Linked DNA regions of Homo sapiens: all the other regions are linked to region 3. Evidence: fine-mapped expression QTL. A gene starts in region 3. Each other region holds a variant in brackets. All regions are shown on one strand. Distances are from middle to middle.

Region 1 (5,000 bases), 38 kb after region 3:
AAAAGCCCCGGCCCCCGGAACCGTCTAGTTGGGGAGACAGGCAAGAAGCCACGTGCAAAGGTAAATGAGAGATCATAACAGAAGGTGATCAGGCAGTGAGTGAAGCAGGAAGGGGGTGGGGCTAGAGAAGGCGATGCTGTGATTGGAAGGGACTAGAGAAGGCGACGCTGTGATTGGAGAAGACCATCAGGAATGCAGATATGTTTCCCCTGAGCCAAGCTACCTATCCCAGGCTGGGGAAGCCTCTCTCCTTCAGATATCGCGTGACGGGATGGGCACCGGTGACACAGGCTTGAGGCTGCAAATCGTCACAAGTATACAAGTATAAAAACCACCAGGGGTTCAACCTCAAGGGGCTGTTAAACAAAAGATGATGGAATCCTATGCAGGGGTGAAAGAGAAGGAGGCAAGGCTTGTCGTCCCCCGAAAGAACAAGCTCCAGAACCTAACACCGGGCAGATAAGAGGCAGAGAAGAGTGGGGACCGTGTGACCGAACAATAGGGAAGAATGCGTTGCATGTGGCATGCGTGTCTGTCATCTGTGGGCATGGAGGGCTCCGTCGAGGGGGACAGGCAGGGGGCACCTCTCACCATCTCGCTAAACATCGTTGGACATAGTTTTGATCTTTGAACTCTTTCAATGTACTAGTGATTAAAAACATAGCATTAGGCCAGGTGCAGTGTAATCACACCTGTAATCCCAGCACTTTGGGAGGACGAGGCGGGTGGATCACTTGAGGTCAGGAGTTCGAGACCAGCCTGGCCAACATAGTGAAACCGTCTCTACTAAAAATACAAAAATTAGCCAGGCATGGTGGCAGGCGCCTGTAGTCCCAGCTACTCAGGAGGCTGGGGCAGGAGGATCACTTGAACCTGGGAGGTGGAGGCTGTAGTGAGCTGAGATCATGCCACTGCACTCCAGCCTGGGTGACAGAGTGAAACTCCACCTCAAAAAAAAAAAAAAAAAGGGAGGGGGGCAGGGGCAGGCACGGTGGCTCACACCTGTAACCCCAGCACTCTGGGAGGCCAAGGCGGGTGGATCACCTGAGGTCAGGAGTTCAAGACCAGCCTGGCCAACATGATGAAACCCTCTCTCTACTGAAAATACAAAAAGTTAGCCGGGTGTGGTGGTGGGCGCCTGTAATCCCAACTACTCGGGAGACTGAGGCAGGAGAATCGCAGGAGAACCACCCTGAAGGTGGAGGTTGCAGTGAGCCAAGATTGCACCATTGCACTCCAGCTGTGCAACAAGAGGGAAACTCTATCTCAAAAAAAAAAAAAAAAATTAAACATCCAGAAAGACAGTGTGGTCAGTCAAGAGGTGGCCTGGCTCAGACTCTGAAGGTGGCAGGGGAGGGAGCCGCACAGGCCCGAGTGGTTGTGGGTGAACAAAGAGAGGGAGTTGAGGGGGACAGTGGAAGGAGATATGGAAGCATGGTCTTTGTCACACATCAGGTCCAGCTCTCGATCTCTCTGTCCTGCCCTATGTCTACCACACAAAGTGACACCAAGAGCACATGACCTGAGCAAGAGCCCCTACTTCTCCAAGGCGGGGGCCACAGCCTGCTCACTCCTGCACACCCAGCATGCAATGTGTGCTGCAAAAAGGTTGCTTTGGTAGATGGTTGCTGAATGACTGAATAAATGAATGTGTGCAGCTCTGGATGCCCCCCAGAACAGGACCAGGGATGGAGGCCCAGGGGCTGTGGCTTTGGCCAGGGTGGGGATAGGGCTGGCAAAGGGTCGGGAACTCGCAGTAATTCACTCAGAGGGAGAGACAGAAGGGGTGGGCAGCTGACAGCAGGAGTGGCCCCCAACAACTTCTCGTAGCAGAAAAACCCGATAGCAACGATGAACTAGGTGCAATCACACACACTATGATCACTGAGAGAGGAATTCAGACAGAAGCAAAGGAGAGACAGGAGAGACGCTACCAGGGATGGCAGCAGGAACCCTTGGACACCGTGTTCCTCTTTGCAATGCCCTGTCTGGCCCCTGCCAGCTTGGCTCAACCACACAGTGAAAAGATTAGCAGCACTGGAAAGAAACAAATGGAACTGTGAGGTAGCCGGACGCCGGGGACCAAGCCTCACGATTTAGATGCCTGGACCAGGCCCACTGGGGTCGGTCAGAGCATCATGACCCTAGGACTAAGTCGATCCATGAGCTAACCAATCCCAGCATTGTCCCCAGAAGAACAAGTGGCAGGGATGAAAAAAGAAATCATGCAAATGCAAAGAAAACCAAGTGAAACCTCTGGAAACTAAACCAACAGTAACTCTAGTACTGCAGCAATTTCTGTGGAGATGGGAGAGGGAAGGTGGCATGGAGGACCCCCGGCGAGGAGCCCGAGCCGGGACTGAAGCGGGGCCAGGACGTGGCCCCTGCCTGACACGGCCCATACACAGGAATGGTAGTGCTGTACCCAGGGAGGGGAAGAAGCCCCCTATGCATCACTGGGTGGGGACTGATGACATCGTGGCTGCTGCATCTGCACAGGGGTTATTACACAGCAGCTAAGAGGGTGACCAGGACCCACGAGGACACATGG[T/G]AGAAGAGCCAGGAAAGAAATAAGGTATGGATGGAATGTCCTGCGTCTATTTCTGACCACAGAAAGCGGGTAGAGGCTGGGCACTGTGGCTCATGCCTGTAATCCCAGCACTTTCGGAGGCCAAGACGGGAGGATCATTTAAGTCCAAGAGTTCGAGGAGATGAGCCTGGGCAACGTGGCAAAACCCCATCTCTACAAAAATACAAAAATTAGCTGAGCATGGTGGTGCACACCTGTAGTCCCAGCTACTAGGGAGGCTGAGGTAAGAGGATTGCTTGAGCCCGTGAGCTGCAGTGAGCCCTGATCGCGCCACTGCTCTCTGGCCTGGGCGACAGAGTGAGACCCTGTCTCAAAAAAAACAGAAAAAAAAAGTCCAGTGCGGTGGCTCATGCCTGTAATCCCAGCACTTTGGGAGGCTGAGACGGGTGGATCACGAGGTCAGGAATTGAAGACCAGCCTGACCAACATGGTGATACCCCATCTCTACTAACAACACAAAAATTAGCTGGGTGTGGTGGTGTGTGCCTGTAATCCCAGCTACCCGGGAGGCTGAGACACGAGAATCACTTGAACACAGGAGGCAGAGGTTGCAGTGAGCCGAGATCACACCACTGCACTCCAGCCTGGCGATAGAGCAAGACTCCATCTCAAAAAAAAAAACAAAAAAAAAGAAAAAAATGGATAGAGGGCTAGAGTTTCTGTTCTTAGAGTATCTCTGGAAAGAAACAAAGAAACAGGTCACAGCATCCTCTCTGGGACAGGGTTGAGAGTCAAATGATTTTTTTTTTTTGAGATGGAGTGTCACTCTATTGCCCAGGCTAGAGTACAGTGGCACGATCTCAGCTCACTGCAACCTCCGCCTCCTGGGTTCAATCAATTCTTCTGCCTCAGCCTCCCGAGTAGCTGGAATTACAGGTGCCTGCCACCACTCCTGGCTAACTTTTGTATTTTTAGTAGAGACAGGGTTTCACCATGTTGGCCAGGCTAGTCTTGAACTCCTGACCTCAAGTGATCTGCCCGCTTAGGCCTCCCAAAGTGCTGGGATTACAGGCGTGAGCCACCGTGCCTGGCCTTTTTTTTTTTTTTTTGGTTAAAAACCAGGCTCATTTGACTCCCAAGCCCTAAGCTATGCCGGGGTGCCTTTCCCAACCTTCAAGGGTCCCTCTGCTTCGCCACTTTTCGTGGCTGTGGCTGCCCCTGGGGAGTGCCCACCTGTGTGTCTGTCACCTGAGGCCTTGAAGGCCGGATGGCCTGCTGGGGGCTGGGACTGGGGACTGGTGTCCTGGGAGACTGGGGAGGCTCCAGTGCAGACCTGACTCCCTCACCCACCCCTCTCCCTTCACTTACATGGCACTGGCCGTGTAGCTGGCATCGCCGCCCTCCACATACTGCACCTGGCTGGAGTACACGTGTGGGACGGGCACCTGCTGGAGCTGCTGCACCTGGGGCAGAGGAAGGGCACGTGGAGGGTCAGGGGTGGGCCAGCTCCTACGGTTCTCCCTCTAAAGGGCTGGTGCCCACCCAGGCTATCCCTGACGCCCAGCTCCCGGACCCAAGGGTGGCTTCTGGACTCTCAACAAAACACCCTGGAGGAGGCCAGGGCTGGGAATCAGGAAGAGCTGTGTCAGGAGAAGCCAGGACTCTCGGCTTCGGCTGGGGCCAGCAAGGGTGGGGCCTGACGGACAGTGGAGGGGACCCGAGACAGGGTCCTGTAGTGGGCGTGAAGGTTGGACCCCAGGCACAGGGGCAAGGCTATCGCTGGAGCCATGGAGCTACAGAAAGGGCCTCAGGGGTGGGGCCTGGAAACCGGGCACAGGATGTGAGGGGCGGAGCCTGGGGCCCCGGTTGGTGGGACAGAACCTGGAATCACTGACAGGGCCTTAGGGGCGGGGCCTGAGTCCCCCACCTCCATCCCCCACCCTTGTCTGCAGGGGCGGAGCTGGGACCTGGACGGGGCTTGGGTGGGGAGTCAGAGGCGGGTCCCTAGACCGACCCGTCGGGCGGAGGTGGGGTCTACAGGGCTTGCGGGGCCTGGTGGGCGGCCCAGACTGGGCGCCCCCGCCCCCGCCCGCCCGCTGCCCCCCGCCCGTGCGTCCGCCACCTACTTTGAGGGCCGTGGCGGCCGTGCCGAACACTAGCACCTGGGGGATTCTCTGGATCCTGACCCTCTGGTCGGGGCTGGCTCGGGCCGGGAGCCGGGACAGTGGCTCGAAGACCACTTTCTGCTGCGGCAGGAGCAGGTGTGGGGGCAGCACGCCCACCAGCTCCACCCACTGCTCGGCGCCCGGCTCGTAATGGGGCGGCGGCGGCTCGGGGCTGCCTAGCTGCGGGGCCTCGCCGCTGCACGCGGGCGGCCGGGGCGGCGGCTCCGGCGGCGGCGTGGGCCGGGGATCTCGCTGCTCTGCCTTCCTAGCGGGAAACTGACTGCCTGAGCTCTGGAGGACAAACA
Region 2 (11,228 bases), 44 kb before region 3:
GGTGGGGCTTCGAAGTCAGAGGCGTCCAGGGCATCCTGTATCTGGCTGTCCAGCAGGAAGTCGAGTTCCACAGCTAAAGAGTCTGCCCAGGTGCCCTGGTCTGCAGAATGAGGCAGGTGGTCTCGCTGCCCTGCCAGCTCTGAGGTGGTGTCTGGAATGCCCTGCTGAGCCCCGGGCTCCTGGAGAGGGTCGTCTGCTATTTCTCTGTGTTCCAGCACAACAGAGGCTTGCGGGGACACACGGAACCCCTCGAGGTCTCGTTCGAGGTTCTGGCCACCTAACTCGGCTTCCTCTTGAGCAGGACCTGGCTCCTGCTTCTGATTGACACATGGACCTGTGTCCGGGGATGCATGACCGGAATCTCCAGCACCCATCATGGACTCTCCGCTCCCAGGTGCCAGAGCCAGGGAGGCTGTAGGGCCCACTAGGACATCGCCGGGGGGCTTGCCATCCTGCCCTGCCTCCCCACTTTCTCCTGTGGTTTCCCCAGTGAGCGAGGTGCAGCCTGGCAAGGCCCTCCTGTGGCCTCCATCAGCGGCCTTCCTCCTGGGAGAGGCAGGTGATATGGCACTGGCCTGCCCATCGGGCCCAGCCACCTCCAGAGCCCTCTCTTCCAGCTCAGTGGGGTCTGTGCTCAGGTCTGCGATGACAACCATCCCGAGGGAGGAGCATCCCAGGCTGCTATGAGTCCCTTCCCCTTCCCTACCCATCCTGCTGGGGGTCTGCTGGGGGTCAGGGGAGCCCTGGGCCACAGACCCGGGTTCCAGGCACCAAGAGGCAGGGCCCAGTCCTGGAGCAGGGCCTGAGGTAGGAGCTGATGCTGGGGTACAGGGGACACCGTCTCCCTCCTCCTGGGGCCCTCCAGGCAGGCCAGCCCCTGCTGTCCTTTGGGCCCCTCCCTCCTGGGGGGCTCCTCTGTCTGGCTTCTCCCCTTCAGAATCAATGCTTGGTAGGTGTTCCTTTTGGCCACCGTCACCTGGAACCCTGTCTGTCTCAGGCTTGCTGTCATCGGCCCCTTGTTCTGACAGGTGGTCTTGGCTGGCCCTCTGTGAGGCGGACAACCCCGTCCCCCTGTCTGGAGGGTCATCAGGCTGAGAATCCCCACTGCCGGGCACCGCCTGCACAGGGCTCTGGCTGCTCTGCTCAGGGCGGGCACTGTCTGCCTGCGTTGGGTCCCCCAGCTCCGTGGCCTCCTGGAGGGGGACCCCCAGGGTCTCCACTAGCAGCTGGCATCCTGGACTCTGGGCGCTGGACTCTGCGATTGTTTCCTGTGGACAGAAAAAGACTCAGCCCCGGGGCCTTTGATAACCAAGTTCTCCGAAGAGTTTTCTATTAGGTTGGTGTAAAAGTAATTGCGGGTTTTGTCATTACTTTTAATGGCAAAAATTGGCCAGGCGTGATGGCTCATGCCTGTAATCCCAGCACTTTGGGAGGCCGAGGTGGGCGGATCACTTGAGGTCAGGAGTTCAAGATCAGCCTGGCCAAAATGGTGAAACCCCATCTCTACTCAACAAATACAAAAATTAGCCAGGCATGGTGGCAGTTGACTGTAGTCCCAACTACTCAGGAGGCTGAGGCAGGAGAATTGTTTGAACCCGGGAGGCGGAGGTTGCAGTGAGCCGAGATAGGACTGCACTCCAGCCTGGACGACAGAGTAAGACTCTGTCTCATACACACAAAAAAATTAGTGGCAAAAACTGCACTTACTTTTGCACCAATCTAATAGTTGTCACCACCCTGTTCAAAGACTCAGATATTGGCACCGGCCATCATGCATGGAAATAGGCATCAGTACCAGGGCCGGCGACTGGAGGGGGATCTGGAAGCACAGAAACCTCTCCTTCCACCAAGCTCTTCTCTCCACCAGCACCAGGTACTCAATCAGATCAGGGATATGAAAATCAAGGTGGCATTCAGACCACACCAATGTCAATTTCCTGTTTATTATTATTATTATTATTATTATTATTATTAGACAGAGTTTCACTCTTGTTGCCCAGGCTGGAGTGCAATGGTGCGATCTTGGCTCACTGCAACCCCCACCTCCCGGGTTCACGCAATTCTCCTGCCTCAGCCTCCCGAGTAGCTGGGATTACAGGCTCGCGCCACCATGCCCGGCTAATTTTGTATACTTAGTAGAGACAGAGTTTCTCCATGTTGACCAGGCTGGTCTCAAACTACAGACCTCAGGTGATCTGCCCATCTCGGCCTCCCAAAGTGCTGGGATTAAAGGCATGAGCCACTGCGCCCAGCGGCTATTATTATTTTTATTATTTATTTTTCATAATTTTGAGACAGGGTCTCACTCTTTCGTCCAGGCTGGAGTGCAGTGGTGTGATCACGGCTCACTGTAGTTTTGACCTTCCTAGATTCAGACGACCCTCCCACCTCAGCCTCCTAAGTAGCTGGGACTACAGGTACACACCACAACTGGCTAAATTTTGTGGTTTTTTTGGTAGAGATGGCGTTGTGCCATGTTGCCCAGGCTGGTCTTGAATGCCTGGGCTCAAGTGATCCTCCTGCCTCGGCCTCCCAAAGTGCTGGGATTACAGGTGGGAGCCACTGCACCTGGCCAAGTTTTAAAACAATTATTGTAGCCTGGACGCAGTGGCTCATGCCTGTAATCCCAGCACTTTGAGAGGCCGAGGCAGGCGGATCATTTGAAGTTGGGAGTTCGAGACCAGCCTGGCCAACAGGGTGAAACCCCTATTCTAATAAAAATACAAAAATAAGCCAGGTGTGGTGGTGTGCACCTGTAGTCCCAGCTACTGGGGAGGCTGAGGCAGGAAAATCACTTGAACCCAGGAGGTGGAGGCTGCAGTGAGCCGAGATCACACCACTGCACTCCAACCTGGGCGATAAGCAAGACTCCATCTCAAAAAAAAAAAAAAATTATTGTAGAGACAGAGTCTTGCCATGTTGCCCAGGCTGGTCAAGGGAAGTCTCCCAAAGTGTTGGGATCATAGGCATGAGCCACTGCACCTGGCCAATTGCCTAGTTTTGGTGATGGACTATAGTTATGCATGGTGTTACCACTCGGTGAAGCTAAAACAGAGAACACCGGAAATTCACTCTGTACCATTTTGTGTTTTTTTAAAAATTGTGCTAAGGCCGTGCGCAGTGGCTCATGCCTGTAATCCCAGCACTTTGGGTGGCTGAGGCGGGCAGATCACCTGAGGTCAGGAGTTCAAGACCAGGCTGGCCAACATGGTAAAACCCCGTCTCTACTAAAAATACAAAAATTAGCTGGGCGCGGTGGGCAGGCGTCTGTTATCCCAGCTACTTGGGAGGCTGAGGCGGGAGAATTGCTTGAACCCAGTGGGGCAGAGGTTGCAGTGTGCCAAGATGGCACCATCGCACTCCAGCCTGGGTGACAAGAGTGAAACTCTGTCTCAAAAAAAAGAAAAAAAATAAAATAAAGAATTGTTGCATAGTCAACACACATCCATAGCGCAATGTACTGAAAACGGTGGGTGGAGAGGTGCAGGCCTCACCATTGCCAAAGAACTCCAGGGTTAAATGGGGCTGCCGAGGCTGGGCCAGGAGGCTGCACCTGCGCTGGGCTCAGCCTGGCTGATTTTAGAGCCTTACCAGGCTAAAGGCCCCACTCCCACGGTCCTCATCCTTCATCTCTTCTTTTCTTGTCACTGTCTTCCTGGATTTTGCAAACTGGGGAACAAACCTCCCGAATGAGTTCTGTAAACCGGATACAAGAACAAAGCAGCAATAAAGATAAGAGAGGAATGAGGTCTTAGGAAAAAAGCAACCCCAAACCTGCTCCTTTCTTGTAGCCTTGAGAGAACTCCACCCTTGCCCTCTGGGCACATTCCCTCCAGCCCCTGTAGACCATGAGTGAGCAATTGGTGACAAAGAAGGGAGACACAGAGCCGGAACTTTAAGGGAGGCAGTGGTGCTTCTATATCCACGAGGCCACAGGACGAGCTCACCTGGGAAGGAGGAAGGGGAGCTGGCTCCTTTTCTGGTTGACGGAGGAGCCGGCAGGGAGATCCTGTTTCCTCATCAGGGGAGCTATGTAGGAAAAGATAAAACTGAAGGAGATCTGCCCGGGTGCGGTGGCTCACACCTGTAATTGCAGCACTTTGGGCGGCTGAGGCGGGCAGATCACCGAGGCCAGGAGTTCGAGACCAACCTGGGGAACATGGTGAAACCGTATCTCTACTAAAAATACAAAAATTAGCTGGATGTGGTGGCGCACGCCTGTAATCCCAGCTACTTGGGAGGCTGAGGCAGAATGGCTTGAACTCAGGAGATGGTGTTTGCAGTGAGCCAAGATTGTGCTACTGCATTCCAGCCTAGGTGAGAGAACAAGGTTCTGTGTCAAAAACAAACAAACGAGGGGGATCTGAAATCCTCCTAGGTTGTCACTCACCTATCGAGACAAACGCAAAACAAAATCCAACAGGAAACCAGTGCTAAGAGTCTCCTAGGCTGGGCGTGGTGGCTCATCCCTTTAATCCCAGCACTGTGGGAAGCTGAGGTGGGTGGATGCCCAGGAGTTTGAGACCAGCCTGAGCAACATAGTGAGACCCCTTTTCTACAAAAAATTTAAAAATTAGCTGGACGTGGTGATGTGTGCCTGTGGCCCCAGCTACTTGAGAGGCTGAAATGTCACGATCATCTGAGCCAGGGGAGTTCAGGCTGCAATGAGCTATGATCACGCCACTGCACTCCAGCCTGGGTGACAGAGCAAGACCCTATCTCAAAAAAAAAAAAATGTCTGCTAGATGGAAGGCCCTGGAAAACCTGCTTTGAAAGAGTGGGATGGGGATGGAGAAGCAGTGACCTGAGAACATTTAACTGTCAAGGAGGGTGCAGAGTCCCACCTGGAGAATACACTGCCTTAACAGGTGACTTTGTTACATTTATAATCCCAGGAATTGCCTTCTGAACTGGGAATAGGGATATTCTCATTTGGACGGACACTCCAGCCCTGACACGGCACATTCTAGGGAAAGGAAATTGTGGATGCAAGAAACATAGTGTCTTTAAAAACTAGTGAAACTTAGGGTTATATTTAAATAAATAAGGGCCAGGCGTGGTGGCTCACGCCTGTAATCCCAGCACTTTGGGAGGCCGAGGCGGGCGGATCACCTTAAGTCAGGAGTTCGAGACCAGCCTGGCCAACATGGTGAAACCCCGTCTCTACTAAAAATACAAAAATTAGTTGGGTGTGGTGGCGGGCGCCTTTCATCCCAGCTACTCAGGAGGCTGAGGCAGGAGAATCGCTTGAACCCGGGAGGTGGAGGTTGCAGTGAGCCGAGATTGTGCCACTGCACTCCAGCCTGGGTGACAGAGAAAGACCCTGTCTCAAATAAATAAATAAATAAATAAGGATATGTATATCGTTTTGTTTTGGCTAATTATTTTATTTCTTGTAGATATGGGGTCATCCTTGTTATGTTACACAGGCTCCTCTTGAACTCCTGGGCTCAAGCGATCCTCTTGCCTCAGCCTCCCAGTGTGCTGGGATTATAGGCATGAGCCACTGCACTCAGCCCTGATTGCTTTTCTTTTTTTATTGGTCGTTAGCTCACATAACAACAATTCCTTTGTTCCCTTCTTGATTAAGGAAGAGGAGGAATGTGGAAG[A/G]AGGATGGGTTTGACCAGCAGACAGAATATGAGTTCTGTAACCCTGAAAAATGCAATGTTATCTTTGCCCACAGTTAAAACTTTTTTTTCTTTTTTTAGATGGAGTCTCGCTGTTGCCCAGGCTGGAGCGTAGTGGCATGATCTCAGCTTACTGCAACCTCTGCCTCCTGGGTTCAGTCGATTCTCCTGCCTTAGCCTCCTGAGTATCTGGGATTACAGGTGCGCCACCACACCCAGCTAATTTTTGTATTTTTAGTAGAGACGGGGTTTTGCAGTGTTGGCCAGTCTTGTCTCAAACTCGTGACCTCAAGTGATCTTCCCCCCTCGGCCTCCCAAAGTGTTGGGATTACAGGCATTAGCCACCATGCCCGGCTAAAACATCAACCCTTCTTACCAGCGAGGAAAGCTAGGAGAAGCGAGATCCGAGGGCCCTGAGCTCTGGGAGGGAGTGGGTCACAGCACTAGATAGGTTGTGGGTCTCTTTCCCAAAGCATTGCTGTCTGCTGAGCTGCTGTGCTATGTGGACTGTCAGTGGGGAGACCTGCCGGAATGTTCAGAGCCACCTACCTGGAGACGGCCTTTCCTGGTTCCTCCCCGTGCTGCTGTGTAGAGGGAACAGGTCCCAATTTGCCCTCTGGCTCCTCAGGGTGATGTAAACAGCCCAACATGGAACTCTGGGGGTCCCCATAGAAGTCTCCTAGCCTTGGGTTCTTTAGGGGTTTTGGAGGACAGAGTCCCTCTCCTGTTTTAGAGACAGAGGAAGATGAAGGGGTGGGGGATACAGCCACTGCTCATGGCTGACAACTCAGGTCTCCCCCACTACAACCAGGCTGCACGCGAGAAGGGGCCGAATCCATTTCACTCTCTGCGGGGTCCCAAGTGCCTGTAAGAGCATCTTGTACACTGTTGGTGCTCAATAAATAAATTATCCATGACTGGATAAATGCACACCACCAAGGGCAGACAAGACTAAATTATGTACCATTCTAATGTGCTGAGACATCTGCAAAATAGCCATCCTGGGAAAACTGGGACTCACAGCCACCGGGTGCTGAAGAGGTGATGCTTTGGCCACGTCCTGGCCCCTTGCATTTCTGCACTAACTTCCCCATCACTGAAAGCAATTGCGATGTGTCTTCTTCTGGCATTTAAGAGGCTAAAGATGCTTATTGACATCTTTGTATATATAGCGCAGTGGCTCACGCCTATAATCCCAGCACTTTGGGAGGCCGAGGCGGGTGGATCACCTAAGGTCAGGAGTTCAAGACCAGCCTGGCCAACATGGCAAAACCCCGTCTCTACTGAAAATACAAAAATTAGCCGGGCATGGTGGCACCCACCTATAGTCCCAGCTACTTGGGAGGCTGAGGCAGGAGAATCGCTTGAACCTGGTAGGCGGAAGTTGCAGTGAGCTGAGATTGCGCTACTGCACTCCAGCCTGGTTGACAGAGCGAGACTCTGTCTCAAAAAAAAATTAATATATATTATATATCATATATAAAATACATACATATTCATATTTAATATATACATACATATAAAATATATAATTATAATGTATTTACATATTGCATATTTATAATTATAAAATATATTATTTAAATTATATATTTATGATATATTAATATATTATAAACATTATATCCTTGTATTATATTATATATTTATATATGATATATATTTATTAAATATATACTATATATATTATATATCCCATTATATTGCCAGGTTGTTCCATGTGATCTAAAGCCAGGCCACGCCACCTCAGGATTCAGCCTCAGCCAAATATGTAAATATATATATTTATACATATGTATTTATACATACATATGTATTTATACATACGTATTTACATATATGTATTTATGTATTATATATACTATATATATATTTTTTCTTTTTTTAAGACAGGGTCTGGCTTTGTCTCCCAGGCTAGAGTGAGGTGGTGCAACTGTGGATCACTGCAGTCTTGACCTCATAGGCTCAAGCCATCCTCCCACCTCAGGCCACTCAAGTAGCTGGGACAAAAGGTGTGTGCCACCATGCCTGGCTAAGTTTTCTTTTGCTTTTGTTTTGTTGAGACAGGGTCTCATATGTTGCCCAGGCTGGTCGTGAACTCTGGCGCTCAAGTGATCCTCTTGTCTCGGCCTCCCAAAGTGCTGGAATTACAGGCATGAACCACTTTGCCTCGCCAGAATCTATCTTTTGAATTAAGAAAACTCCCTTACATCGAAACTTTTTTTTTTTTTTTTTGAGACAGAGTCTCGCTCTGTCACCAGGCTGGAGTGCAATGGCACGATCTCTGCTCACCGCAACCTCTGCCTCCCGGGTTCAAGTGATTCTCCTGCCTCAGCCTCCTGAGTAGCTGAGACCACAGGCACGCACCACCACACCCAGCTAATTTTTGTATTTTTAGTAGAGACAGGGTTTCACCATGTTGGCCAGGATGGTCTCGATCTCTTGACCTCATGATCCGCCCGCCTCGGCCTCCCAAAGTGCTGGGATTACAGACATGAGCCACCGTGCCCAGCCACATCAAAACTTTCAATAGTGGCTGGCTTGTAAGACTTCCCCAAGCCTGGCCCCAACCTAATCATGCATTCAGTGAACAAATGATAAGGGTTGACTCTAGTGAGTTCCACACCAGATGCTGTCCTAAGAACTTGTGTGTGTTAAGATAAAAGCTCAAGGCAGGGTGCTGCTGTTATGCCTGCCTTACAGAAGTACCTTGAGCAATTCAATATTATCTTTGTCCATGATTAAAATATTGGCCTTTGCCACCAGCAAGGAAAGATGCCAGCCTGTAATCCCAGGACTTTGGGAGGCCGAGGCAGGTGGATTGCTTAAGCTCAGCAGTTCAAGACCAGCCTGGGCAACATGGCGAAACCCTGTCTAAAAAGTACGAAAATTAGCCAAACATGGTGGTGCATGCCTGCAGTCCCACATACTTGGGAGGCTGAAGGGGGAGGATGACTTGAGCCCAGAGGAAGAGATTGCAATGAGTCCAGACTGTGCCACTGCACTCCAGCCTGGGCAACAGAACTAGAGCCTGTCTCAAAAAAACATTTAAATTAAACATTTAAATTAAAATAAATAAATAAAAGGGCAATATGGCAAAACCCCATCTCTACTAAAAATGCAAAAGTTAGCTGGGCATGGTGGTGGGCACCTGTAATCCCAGCTACTTGGGAGGCTGAGGCAGGAGAATCGCTTGAATCCGGGGGGCTGAGGTTGCAATGAGCCAAGATGGCGCCACTGCACTCCAGCCTGGGCAAGGGAGTGAGATTCCATCTCAAAAAAATAAATAATTAAATTAAATTAAAAGGAAAGGAAAGATGCGAGAATTGACACCCAAGGGCCCCAAGTTCCCAGAGAGGTGAAAACGTTAAGGCACACAGAGGCCCAGGAACCAAGGCTGGCACCCCGTCCAACTCCAGAACCAGCACACTTAAGAATACTTGAGCATTTACTGAATGCCTACTATGTAGTAGATTTCTGCCAAGGCAGGCAGAACAAAAAGACAAACCAACAGCCAGGTGTGGTGGTGCACACCTGCAGTCCCAGCTACTCAGGAGGCTGAGGGGGTAGGATCACTTGAGTCCAGGATCTCACTTGGGTAACACAGTGAGATCCCACCTCTATAAAACATTTAAAAATTAGCTGAGGGTGGTGGCATGCACCTGTAGTCTCAGCTACTCAGGAGGCTGAGGCAGGAGGATTGCTTGAGCCCTGGAGGTTGAAGCTGCAGCAAGCCGTGATTGTGCCACTGCACTCTGGCCTCAGCAACAGAGCTAGATCCTATCTCTAAAAAAAACACTAAAGAATAACACTATCCAGGACCAGGCGCAGTGGTTCATGCCTGTAATCCCAGCACTTTGGGAGGCTGAGGCGGGCGGATCCCCTGAGGTCGGGAGTTTAAGACCAGCCTGACCAACATGGAGAAACCCTGTCTCTACTAAAAATACAAAATTAGCCGGGCATGGTGGCTCATGCCTGTAATCTCAGCTACTCAGGAGGCTGAGGCAGGAGAATCGCTTGAACCCGGGAGGCGGAGGTTGCAGTGAGCCGATATCGCGTCATTGCACTCCAGCCTGGGCAACAAGAGTGAAACTCCATCTCAAAAAAAAAAAAAAAAAAAAAAGAATAACACTATCCAAACCCCAGATGGACTCTTTCCAACCTCAGCTCTACATTACACACTTACACATCGTGAAGTAAACCTACTGAATGAGTCTCTCTTTCCTCGACGCCAATTGCTAGGGTCTGCATCAGTCCCCATTCAGCTGTTTGCCCTCCACTAAACCACAGCAATCTTCCTGTAATTGCTTCTAATTCTTCTTCTTCTTCTTTTTTTTTTTTTTTGAGATGGACTCTCGCTCTGTTGCCCAGGCTAGAGTACAGTGGCATGATCTCAGCTCACTGTAACCTCTGCCTCCTGGGTTCAAGCAATTCTCCTGCCTCAGCCTCCTGATTGGCTGCGACTACAGGTGCAAGCCACCATGCCTGGTTAATTTTTTTGTATTTTCAGTAGAGACGGGTTTTCACCACGTTGGCCACACTGGTTTTGAACTCCTGATCTCAAGTGATCTGTCTGCCTTGGCCTCCCAAAGTGCTGGGAATGCAGGTGTGAGCCATGGCGCACGGTAAGTTGCTTGTAATTCTGTCAGTTACAGTTCGGGAGTGCCCGTTTAGAACTTTATCCCACTGCTGTGTATTTGCTTAGCTCTCGCTGAGAGAAGCATTTTCCTTTGTCCTCTGACTACAGCTGGAGGATCTCCAGGGCAGGAACTGAGTGCAATGCACCCTTTGATCTCCCCTTCGCCCTGCCCTGCCCCATCAGGTGCCCACCTCAAAGGATGTACCACCACAAGTAAAGCTCCGATGGACATTGCTTATAGAAACACATTCCTAACCGTCCGGGTGCAGTGGCTCATGCCTGTAATCTCACCACGTTGAGAGGGTGAGGTGGGCAGATTGCTTGAGGTCAGGAGTTCAAGACCAGCCTGGCCAACATGGTGAAACCCTGTCTCTACTACAAATACAAAAAATTAGCCAGGTGTGGTGGTGGGCACCTGTAGTCCCAGCTAATCAGGAGGCTGAGGCAGGAGAATCACTTGAACCCAGGCGGCGGAGGTTGCAGTAAGCCAAGACTGCACCACTGCACTCCAGCCTGGGTGACAGAGCAAGACTCTGTCTCAAAAGAAACACGACCTTGTGGTCTGCCAGAAAAGACAAAATATAGCTGCTTTGTTTATTTGGTTTCTTGAGATTCTCAAACACTTGCTCACTTGGCTGACTGAATGGCCATTTGTACCAAATAAAAAGCAAAAAAATATCAATGGCATTGAAGAGTCTTCTCTTTCCTTCCTGTGATCTGTCCACATGGGACTAATTTAAGAAAAAATAAGGCAGAACCTTGTGTTCGACACCAAAGACTAAAGACATTGGGAGGGAAAAGGCCTCTTTCACCACCTGCCAGAATTTTCTTCCTCTCTCTCCACCCTTCCAGCACACACAGAAAGGGTTGTCCAGGGCCAGCCCAGAGGTCCACTGAGCTGGGGAGTCTACCGCCAACAGAGGCCCCAAGTGACCTGCTGTGGGTGGACCTGGCTGTCCCC
Region 3 (11,228 bases):
CGGCGGAAGGCCCGGTGGTGCACACGGGCGCTGGCCAGGCGGTTATAGGCCAGGTTAAGCTCCGTCAGGCCCGGTGTGGCGACCAGGTCACGGGCACCCAGCGCGGCCACGTGGTTGTGGGGCAGCACCAGGGCACGCAGGCGGCGGGGCAGGGCTGGAGGCACGCGGTCCAGCCCATTGCCATAGAGGTGCAGCGTGTGCAGGCCCCGCAGCGGCCGCAGAGCCCCGGCGGGCAGCCCTGAGCTCCCCAGCTGGTTGTGCTGCAGCAACAAATAGCGCAGACCACGCGCCCCGTGCAGCCGAGCCGCCTCCACCTGCCGGATGCGGTTGCGGCCCAGGTGCAGGATAGCCAGGGTCCGGGGCAGGCCGGCGGGCACTGTGGTCAGCTGGTTGTGGGAGAGATCCAGGTATTCAAGGCTATGCAGCTTGCTGGAAGGAGAGAGGGTCGGTGTTAGGTGGGGCACTTGGAGTGGGGTGCCTGACAGATTTTGGCGGGGAGGCTGGGGAGTGGTCCTGAGACAGATTTAAGCTGGAGATTTTGACTTGGGAGTGATGCGTGGAGAGAGCTGGGTGGGAGGTAAACTTGGGGTGCCCAGGGCAGATTCCAGCCTGAGAGTTAGCTATGGGGGTGACCAGGGTAGAGCCGAGATGGAAAGGCATGTGAGACTTACGATGTCAGTGCAGGGCTGTGGGGAACAGGGACACCTACCCAGTGCTCTGCCGAGCCCAGTGAGCAGCAGGCACTCAGTAAATGAGGCCGTGGCTTAGGAGCCAGTCAGGGAAGGGGGACTGAAGGTTGGGACCCCCGACTGTAAATTCTCAGCCCCTGCTGCCCCCCAACCAGCCTGTACCTGAAGGTGGTGGCATCCAGGCCACTGTCTGTCAGCTGGTTGTGCTGGAGGTAGAGCTCACGGAGTTGAGTCTGGCGGCTCAGGGCTCCTCGGGGCACCTTGGAGATGAGATTGTTCTGGAGAAGGAAGAAGAGAATGAGACTTGAGTCTGGGATGAGGGCAGCGGGAAGCCACAGACGGCTCTTGAGTAAGGGAGTGACGAGGAGCTTGCCTTGAGCTCAAAGCGATTTCCAATAAAGTGATTCAAAGAAGGATAACTCTGACCACTGGCATTCTGAGGGGCAATTGAGAAGAATGGAAAGCTAGGAACTGGAGGGGTCCCCCTGGAAAGAGGTGAAGAGAGTCTGGCCCGGGGTGGGACCTACAGCAGGGCTACCTGCAGGTGGAGCCGCTCGAGTGAGGGCGGCAGGCTGGGCGGCAGGTAGCTGAGCTGGTTGTTGGAGAGGCTGAGGGTGGCGATGGCCTCGGAGCCGCGGAAGGCGTCGGGGGGCAGGCCAGCGTTGCTCAGCTGGTTGTTGTGGAGGTACACGGACCTGAGGAGAGCCAGGCTCCGGCCACCAGCCTGCCCCTCGCCTCCTACCACCCCACTCCCGCACCACACCCTGCTCAGGGTCGCCTTCAGTGTGTGTGTGTGTGTGTGTGTGTGTGTGCGCGCGCATGTGTGGAGTCTGTGTGGGAATGTAATTGTGTATGTGTGCATGTGACTGTGCGTAGGTGTGCAGGTGAGTGTGCATGTGTGTTGTATGAATAGACGTGTGTGCATGTGTGAGCAGTGTGCATGTGTAAGTGTAATGAGTGCATATGTGGAGTGTGTGTGCACGTGTGTATGTGATTGTAAGAGTGTGTGGGCGTGCATGTGTGTATGTATATGCAAGTGTGTGCTATGTGCCTGTGCATAAGTGTGCATGGGTGAGTGTGTGCATGTGATTGTAAGTGTGGGTGTGCATGTGTGCATGCCTGTGCATAAGTGTGCATGTGATTGTGTGTGTGCAGCCGAGTGTGCAACTGTGTGTATGCATGTATGTCCATGTGTGCATGTGATCATGTGCAAAAGTGTGAGCATTGTGTACATATGTGCATGTGTGTGCTTGTGTGTGCATGTGATTGCGTGTGCATGCATGAGTGTGTGCCTGTGTGCATGTGGTTGGAAGTGTGTGCAGGTGTGTATGTGAGTCTGTGTGTGTGCTTGTGTGTGCATGTGATTGTGTGTGCATGAGCATGTGTTCATGTGGTTGTGTGTGCAGGTGTGTATGTGAGTCTGTGTAAGTGTGTGTGTGTGTGTGTCCCTGCACATACTGTCTCCACCTCAGTCTGGAGTTCTGACACAGCATACAGGGCCCTGTCTCCCCGCTCACTCTCCTCCCAGGGTAGAACTATGCCCTCTTCCCACTCCCCAAGGCTAGGGATCTGTCCCTGGTTAAGCCCTCCAGGGCAAGGCATTTTGTTTCTGTTTTTGTTTTTAATTTTGAGACAGAGTCTCACTCTGTCGCCCAGGCTTGAGTGCGGTGGCACGATTTCGTCTCACTGCAAACTCCACCTCCTGGGTTCAAGCCAGTCTCCTGCCTCAGCCTCCTGAGTGGCGGGGATTACAGGCGCACACCACCACCCCCAGCTAATTTTTGTATTTTAAGTAGAGACAGGGTTTCATCATGTTGGCCAGGCTGGTCTCGAACTCCTGACCCCAGATGATCCTCCCACCTTGGCCTCCCAAAGTGCTAGGATTACAGGAGTGAGCCACTGCACCCGGCCGAGGGCAAGGTCTTAACTCCCTCATTGCTCCTAGAACCGGGGCATGACACAGATGTATCTGAGGCCTGGGGGCCTGGGCTGGGCCAGGGTCTACCTGAGTGCCGGCTTCTCCCCAAAGGTGAGGGGGAAGATCTCCATCACTTGGTTGGCAGCCAGATCCGCGACACGGAGGGACCGGGGCAGAAACTGAGGGGCCACTGAGAGCTGTGGGGACACAGCCCACAGCCGGACTGGTCCTGGTGCGCCTTGGCCCCACCACTTCCCCAGCAGAGCTGTCCCCTCCACACCCTGGGCTGAGTGACTGAAGCTGCACCCTCACTGGGCTCGGCCTGCGGGTGGGGCTGGGGGCTCACCTTGTTGTGAGCCACGCAGAGGTGCTGCAGCTGGGTGAGGGACTCGAAGGCCTCGTCAGGCAGGCCTGGGAGAGTAGGGGGGCAGTGAAGGGACCCCAGGCCTGTCTTGGGTGGAGGGGGAGTCTGGGCTCCCAGCTGCCCCAGGACTCTCGGCCGGGGAACTGGCAGAGGCTCCCCAGGCCCTCAGATCCCCTCCTCCCCATCCCTACTCAAAAGCCACAGCCCCCAACCCCCACCCCAGCTCCTGAGTTTCCATCCTGCTCAGCAAAGGGCAGTTCTGGGAACTGCCACAGAGCTGCCCGCAGATGGGGCGGGGGAGGGGGATGGCAGCTGAGACCTCGGTCAGTCCTACAGCCCCAGAGAGGCCGCCTCCCTCTGCCCCCTCACCTTCGGAGGAGATGAGGTTGTTGTGGAGGTTGAGGGTTCGCAGGCCACTGAGGCGGGACAGCTCATTGTAGGGGAGTTCCTGGAGCTGGTTGTTCTGCAGGGTGAGAGTTGGGGTGTTCACACCCGTGACCCCGTGACCAAGTGACCCCAAGCACTGATTCTCAACTTCCCATCAGCCCAAACCAGCCCCATACCATCATCACCCCCACAGTTAATCCCAAACACCCCATCACTCTGACCCAGTCTTATAACTGCCAAGATGTCAAACCCCAAACCCCCACAATCGACCCCAAATGTGCCATCACCCCCACAATCGACCCCAATTCCCCCAACACCCCCACAATCAACCCAAATGTGCCATCACCCCCACAACCGACCCCAAATGCACCATCACCCCCACAATCGACCCCAAATTCCTCAACACCCCCACAATCAACCCCAAATGTGCCATCACCCCCACAATCACCCCCAAATGCACCATCACCCCCACAATCGACCCCAAATGCCCCAACACCCCCACAATCGACCCCAAATGCGCCATCACCCCCGCAATCAACCCCACATGCCACAACACCCCCACAATCGACCCCAAATGCGCCATCACCCCCGCAATCAACCCCACATGCCACAACACCCCCACAATCGACCCCAAATGCGCCATCACCCCCGCAATCAACCCCACATGCCACAACACCCCCACAATCGACCCCAAATGCGCCATCACCCCCGCAATCAACCCCACATGCCACAACACCCCCGCAATCGACCCCAAATGTGCCATCACCCCCGCAATCAACCCCACATGCCCCAACACCCCCGCAATCGACCCCAAATGTGCCATCACCCCCGCAATCAACCCCACATGCCCCAACACCCCCGCAATCGACCCCAAATGTGCCATCACCCCCGCAATCAACCCCACATGCCCCAACACCCCCGCAATCGACCCCAAATGCGCCATCACCCCCGCAATCGACCCCAAATGCGCCATCACCCCCACAATCGACCACAATGCGACATCACCCCCACAATTGACCCCAAATGCGCCATCACCCCCACAATCGACCCCAAATGTGCCATCACCCCCACCATCAACCCCACACGCCACAACATCCCCATAACCCCAAACTCCCCATCACACTAACTCCAAACAACACTATAACCGCCAAGATGTTGACCCTAACACCACTAATCCTCAGTCCCCGACAACTTCCAGCATGTCCACGCTCACCCCTCTCATCTTGGGCATGCAGAGCCAATCTGCCAAGGCAAAGCTCCATCACAGCCTGCTCTGCACCGCCCTCCTGCAAGTGTGTTCCTATACCCCACCACGCTCCTCAGCTCTGGGGCACCCCTCCAGCTCCCCTCACCACTGGGTCTCAGCCCTGCATGCCCCCACTCCCCTCCGTGGGCCCCACCTGCAGGGAGAGGTGCTGAGCGGCTCTGGTGATGTTGTCCGGGAACACTCGAAGGTCCAAGCCATCACAGTCCACAGTGTCGACTCGGGGGCAGGAGCAGCGCAGGGGACAGGCCCGGGGCAGGGGCTGCAAGCTCTCCCCCAGGTGGGGGAAGGCAGCGTCTTCCAAGCCGGCGACGGGCGGGGGCCCCGGCAACAGCAGGAGCAGCAGCAGGCTCGGCCACTGCGGGGGAGGGAGGGTCAGCGTGTCTCCAGGCTGGGCGCAGGGTCGCCATGGTGACTGGAGCATCCCCTCCTCGGGGAGGGTCTTGGTGGGGAGGCAGTGGCCAGTTGGCAGAGCAGGGGTGGGGGGGCAGGCAGGCCCCACCCTCAGACCCTCCCGTGCCCCACCTTACCATGGCCAGCCCTGACTCTGCCATCTCGCCCAAGCTGCTGACCAGGACTTCCTAATGGAAACCAGGCGGTCACCTCCTGGAGCCTCTGCTGTGGCCACCACCGCCCCCCATCTCCAGACCCATGCCACCCCCCACAACAGCCTGTTCTCCCGGGGCTTTGGGGGAGCTGGCCCACCCCCTTCCCCGCCCTGGGGAGGACGGGCAGGCGGCCGGATGGGGTGGTGAGGACAGGCCAGCCCGTCCCCTTGGTCCCCCCCAACAACCACCCCATCTCTGCTTTCGTAACCTCAGCCAGCCTGGGCCGGGCCACAAGAACAAGGAATGTTTGGGGAAAAGCTGAGATTCGTCCTGTCTGGTATTTGGGACGACCGCAGGAGTAGGGGTGGGGATGGAGGGATGGGGGGAGCTTCGGGGCACAGGAGAGTTCCGAGAAGCAGGGGCGGGCAGCAGCGAGGGATTAGGGAGGCCTGAGCTTAGCCTGGCAGCCCAGATGCCAGCCTGGGAGCTCCTGACCAGGTCTGCTGCCCGGCACCCACCTCCCCTCTGCTGGCTGGTCTTGCTCCAGACACCCGCCCCCTCCTCCCCCCGCAAATGGCCACAGCCGCCTGGAAGGAAATTACATATATCCAGGCATCAGCCTGGTGGTTAAGAGTGTGAGCTTGGTGCCAGCCTGCCTGGGTTTGAACCTGGGCTGTGCCACCTCTCAGGGCCTTGGTTTCCCTTTCTGGGGTAATGGTTGGCTCACCACCCCACACTCCCCCACAGTGTTGTAAGGATTATACGAAGTGTGCATTCAGAACAGTGCCTGGCATATCCCAGGGCTTTGGCACCCGTGGATGGGGGTGACAAGCTGGTCTCCACATGAGGTCAATTCTCCCAGACCCACAACTTACCAACAGGGCGGCTTCAGACAGGTCCTTCTCCTGCCCAGACCTCAGCTTTCCCACACATAAAATGGGATTGACAGGCTGGGTGCTGGGGTTTATACCTGTAATCCCAGTGCTTTGGGAAGCTGAGACAGGAGGATCTCTCTTTTGTTTTTTGAGACAGAGTCTCACTCTGTCACTCTGTCGCCTAGGCTGGAGGGCAGTGGCGTGATCTCGGCTCACTGCAACCTCCACCTCCGGGGTTCAAGTGATTCTCCCGCCTCAGCCTCCCAAGTAGCTGGGATTACAGGCGCCTCCCACCATGCCCAGCTAATTTTTGTATTTTTAGTACAGACAGGGTTTCGCCAAGTTGGCCAGGCTGGTCTCGAACTCCTGACCTCAGGTGATTTGCCCACCTTGGCCTCCCAAAGTGCTCGGATTACAGGCATGAGCCACCACATCTGGCTAGAAGGATCTCTTGAGGCCAGGAATTTGAGACCAGACTGGGCAATATAGTGAGACCCTGTCTCTAAAAATAAATTTAAAAAAAAATTAGCCTGGGCTGGGCTCCATGGCTCACACCTGTAATCCCAGCACTTTGGGAGGCTTAGGCAGGCGGATCACCTGAGGTCAGGAGTTCCAGAGCATCGAGCCCAACATGGTGAAATCCTGTCTACTAAAAATACAAAAATTAGCTGGGCATGATGGCACGTGCCTGTAATCCCAGCTACTCCAGAGGCTGAGGCACGAGAATCGCTTGAACCTGGGAAGTGGAGATCACATCACTGCACTCCAGCCTGGGCAACAGAGCAAAACTCTGTTTCAATAATAATAATAATAATAATAACTAACCTGGTATGGTGGTGCACACCCACAGTCCCAGGTACTCAGGAGGCCAAGGCAGGAGGAACACTTGAGCCTCTGGGCTCAAGTTTGAGGTTACAATGAGCTATGTGCCACTGCACGCCACTCTGGGCAACAGAATAAAACCCTGTTATTAAATAAAGAAAAAAAAAGTGGGGGGATGACAAACCCCCCCCCTCAAAGAGCTGTCTTGAAGCAGAACGAGGCAGTGGGTAGAACATTTTAAGAATGGTGGCTGGGTGTGGTGGCTCATGCCTGTAATCCCAACACTTTTGGAGGCTGAGGCAGGAGGATGGCTCTAAGCCCAGGAGTTTGAGACCAGCCTGGTCAATAATGGTGAGACCCCCGTCTCTAAAAAAATTTTTTAAAAACTTTGTGGGGGGCCAGGCGCGGTGGCTCACACCTGTAATCCCAGCACTTTGGGAGGCCGAGGCAGGTGGATCACAAGGTCAAGAGATCGAGACCATCCTGGCTAACACTGTGAAACCCCATCTCTACTAAAAATACAAAAAATTAGCTGGGTGTGGTGGTGCGCGCCTGTAGTCCCAGCTACTCAGGAGCCTGAGGCAGGAGAATCACTAGAACCAGGGAGGCGGAGGTTGCAGTGAGCCGAGATCACGCCACTGTACTCCAGCCTGGGTGACAGAGCAAGACTCCGTCTCAAAAAAAAAAAAAAAAAAAAACTTAGCGGGGGCCAGGCGCGGTAGCTCACACCTGTAATCCCAGCACTTTGGGAGGCCGAGGTGGGCAGATCAGCTGAGGTCAGGAGTTCGAGACCAGCCTGGCCAACATGGCGAAACCCTGTCTCTACTAAAAAATACAAAAATTAGCTGGGTGTGGTGGCATGTGCCTGTAATCCCAGCTACTTGGGAGGCTGAGGCAGGAAAATGGCTTGAACTTGGGAGGCAGAGGTTGCAGTGAGCAGAGATTGTGCTACTGCACTCCAGTCTGGGCTATGGTGCGAGACTCTGTCTCAAACAAAACAAAACTTAGCGGGGCATGGTGGTGTTGCCTGTAGTCCCAGCTACCAGGGAGGCTGAAGTGGGAGGATCACATGAACCCAGGAGGTTGAAGCTGCAGTGAGCCGTGTTCATGCTACTGTACACCAGCCTGGATGACAGAGTGAGACCCTGTCTCAAAAATGAATGAATAAATAAAAATAAAAGTATAGTGTCGGCCAAGGACGGTGGCTCACACCTGTAATCCCAGCACTTTGGGAGGCCAAGGCAGGTGGATCACCTGAGGTCAGGAGTTTGAAACCAACCTGGCCAACATGGTGAAACCCAGTCTCTACTAAAAATACAAAAATTTCCTGGGCACGGTGGTGCATGCCTGTAATCCCAGCTACTCAGGAGGCTAATGCAGGAGAATTGCTTGAACCTGAGAGCTGGAGGCTGCAGTGAGCCGAGATCACACCACTGCACTCCAGGCTGGGTAACAGTGAGACTCCGTCTCAAAAAAAAAAAAAAAAAAAAAGTATAGCGTCTGCTCAGCTTGGGAGTGGCCAAGGCCAGGAGTTGGAGTCTCCCAGAAGCAGAGCTTGAGACAAGGATTGAGTGCATTTATTCCAGAGAAGGCAGGCAGTGATACAGGGGAGGGAGGAAGTGATCAAGAAACAGTGGCTGGGCGCAGTGGCCCACGCCTGTAATTCCAGCACTTTGGGAGGCTGAGGTGGGCAGATCACCTAAGGTCAGGAGTTCGAGACCATCCTGGCCAACAAGGTGAAACCCCGTCTCTACTAAAAATACAAAAAAATTAGCCAGGCATGGTGGCAGGCACCTATAATCCCAGCTACTTGGGAGGCTGAGGCAGGAGAATTTCTTGAACCTGGGAGGTGGAGGTTGCAGTGAGCCGAGATTGCATCACTGCACTCCAGCCTGGGCGACAGTGCAAGACTCCATCTCAAAGAAAAAAAAGTTAAGAAACATGGGCCAAGAGAGGTGGTTATCTGTTCATGTTTCCTAGGGCTGTGTGACCTCCTGAGGGTCTCTCTTCATGGGGTGAGACAGGAGACGGGTCTTAGTTTAGGCCAGAAGAGAACAACAGCTCCTATCTCAAGTACTCCCCATGGGATGGATGGCCATTAGCTTGGACATTGGGTGGAAGTTCCTCAGTCTCTTCAGCAGTGTAATGGGGCTAACCCTAGGGAGACAGGACTACTGTAGCAGTCCTAGCCCCCAGGGAAGCAGCAATAAGAACCAAGATGTTTGAGTTCCGGGCAAGCCTCTTTCCATTGCAAAGGAAGGAGAACCCAAACTGAACTAGCTAATACAAACAAGGGCATTTACTGGCTCATGAACAGAAAACCTGTATCCTTCAGGCACAGCTGGATCCAGGGGCTCCAGTGATCTCTTCTAGATGAATTCTCTCTTGAACTCTGAACTCTACTTGCAGGCTTCTGTATGTGGTGCTAAGACATTCCCAGAACCAATAAGCATTCTTCCCTGGCTTTAGTAGAAAGCCTCAGACTTAAATCTCATTGGCCTAAATTTGGTCACATGTCCATCCAGAGCCAATCCCTGGGGCCAGAGGGATGGAATGTGCTGATTGGCTAGGAACCTAACCATTGTTCCTGTAAATAACCCACTGGCCTTATCTTCCTGCAACAAACTCCCCTTCTGCCACACTGTCCTGTCCAGTCCTGCCTGGTCCTGCCCAGTTCTGCATTACCCAGCAGGGGCCTCTGCAGGGATAACAATGGAGTATGGTCCATCAATGTGGCCCCAGTGTCCAGCATGGAGCCTGGTATAATCAGTATTTAGTAAATATTTACAGAATGCACATAGGATTGGCTGTGCGCCCCTGTGGCTCACACCTGTAATCCCAGCACTTTGGGAGGCAGAGACGGGCAGATCATGTGAGGTTGGGAGTTTGAGACCAGCCTGGCCAACATGGTGAAACCCCATGTCTACTAAAAAATACAAAAAAAAACAACAAAAAAAATTAGCTGTGTATGGTGGTGCACACCTGTAATCCCAGCTACTCAGGAGGCTGAGGCAGGAGAATCGCTTGAGCTCAGGAGGCACAGGTTGCAGTGAGCCGCGATCACACCACTGCACTCCAGCCTGGGTGACAGAGCAAGACTCTCTCTAAAAAAAGACAGAAAGGGCCAGGCACGGTGTCTCATGCTGTAATCCCAGCACTTTGGGAGGCTGAGGCAGGCGGATCACCTGAGGTCGGGAGTTTGAGACCAGCCTGACAAACATGGATAAACCCCGTCTCTACTAAAAATACAAAATTAGCCAGGCATGGTGGCACATGCCTGTAATCCCAGCTACTCAGGAGGCTGAGGCAGAAGAATCACTTGAACCTGGGAGGCAGAAGTTGTGGTGAGCTGAGATCGCGCCATTGCACTCCAGCCTGGGCAACGAGAGTGAAACTCCAAAAAAAAAAAGAAGAAAAAAGAAAGAAAGAAAAGGAATGCATTCACAGTTCTGGAGGCTGGAAGTGGTTCCAGGCAACTTGGTGTTTCCTGGCTTGTGGCTGCATCACCCTAATCTCTGCCTCAGTTTCCACGTGGCCTTCTTCACTGAGCCTGTTTCTCCTCTCCTGTCTTTATTTATTTATTTTTGAGATGGAGTCTCGCTCTGTTGCTCAGGCTGGAGTGCAGTGGTGTGATCTTGATTCACTGCAAGCTCTGCCTCCTGGGTTCAGGCCATTCTCCTGCCTCAGCCTCCCAATTAGCTGGGACTAAAGGTGCATGCCACCACGCCCGGCTAATTTTTTTGTGTTTTTAGTAGAGACGGTGTTTCATCATGTTAGCCAGGATGGTTTCGATCTCCTGACCTCATGATCCACCTGCCTCAGCCTCCCAAAGTGCTGGGATTACAGGCGTGAGCCACCGCGCCCAGCCTCTCCTCTCCTGTCTTTTATAAAGACACTGGTCTTTGGATTCAGGGTCCACTCAGTTAATCTGGGATAATCTCATCTCAAGATCCTTAACTGAATTACATCGCAAAGACCTGTTTTCCAAATCAGGTCACATTCACGGCATCGGGGAGACAGGACATCTACCTATCTATTTGAGGGACACCATTCAAACCACGACATGGATTTACCTGGGTAGAGATAATCTTGTGGGAAAAAAAATTGCAGAATGATGCTAACAATGTAGATCATTTCCATATATTAAAACATACATATTGGCTAGCTCTGGGGGGAGACCTGAATGCTTGTGGCTGGGGGCAAAGAGAGGCTTGCCACTGGATATCCTTGTACATCTGTTTTTGTTTTGTTTTATTTATTAAATTAATTAATTAATTAATTTTTTTGACAGAGTCTCGCTCTGTCACCCAGGCTGGAGTGCAGTGGCGCAATCTCGGCGGCTCACTGCAAGCTCCGCCTCC

The links. PIP is the estimated chance that this variant, and not a neighbour inherited with it, causes the effect.
Region 1: its variant is fine-mapped to the expression of PODNL1 in left ventricle (GTEx, PIP above 0.99).
Region 2: its variant is fine-mapped to the expression of PODNL1 in testis (GTEx, PIP above 0.99).

Annotation. Positions count from the first base shown.
Region 1 is chr19:13,974,094-13,979,093 of GRCh38, forward strand. It overlaps RFX1 (regulatory factor X1), which reads right to left. Exons shown (of 21, transcript NM_002918.5): 8 at 3,899-3,993. Among named protein-coding and RNA genes, the nearest start is that of DCAF15, 24 kb to the left of the region's middle. The variant T/G (reference allele first, on the strand shown) is at 2,552.
Region 2 is chr19:13,889,195-13,900,422 of GRCh38, forward strand. BRME1 (break repair meiotic recombinase recruitment factor 1) reads right to left here. Exons shown (of 9, transcript NM_001345843.2): 3 at 6,178-6,352; 4 at 3,948-4,029; 5 at 3,592-3,696; 6 at 1-1,268. Among named protein-coding and RNA genes, the nearest start is that of BRME1, 11 kb to the right of the region's middle. RefSeq lists an enhancer at 384-885. The variant A/G (reference allele first, on the strand shown) is at 5,611.
Region 3 is chr19:13,933,027-13,944,254 of GRCh38, forward strand. PODNL1 (podocan like 1) reads right to left here and starts at 5,391. Exons shown (of 10, transcript NM_001370095.3): 1 at 5,153-5,391; 2 at 4,759-4,980; 3 at 3,341-3,434; 4 at 2,954-3,018; 5 at 2,695-2,804; 6 at 1,228-1,384; 7 at 852-967; 8 at 1-429. The coding sequence starts at 5,155. RefSeq lists an enhancer at 3,154-3,911.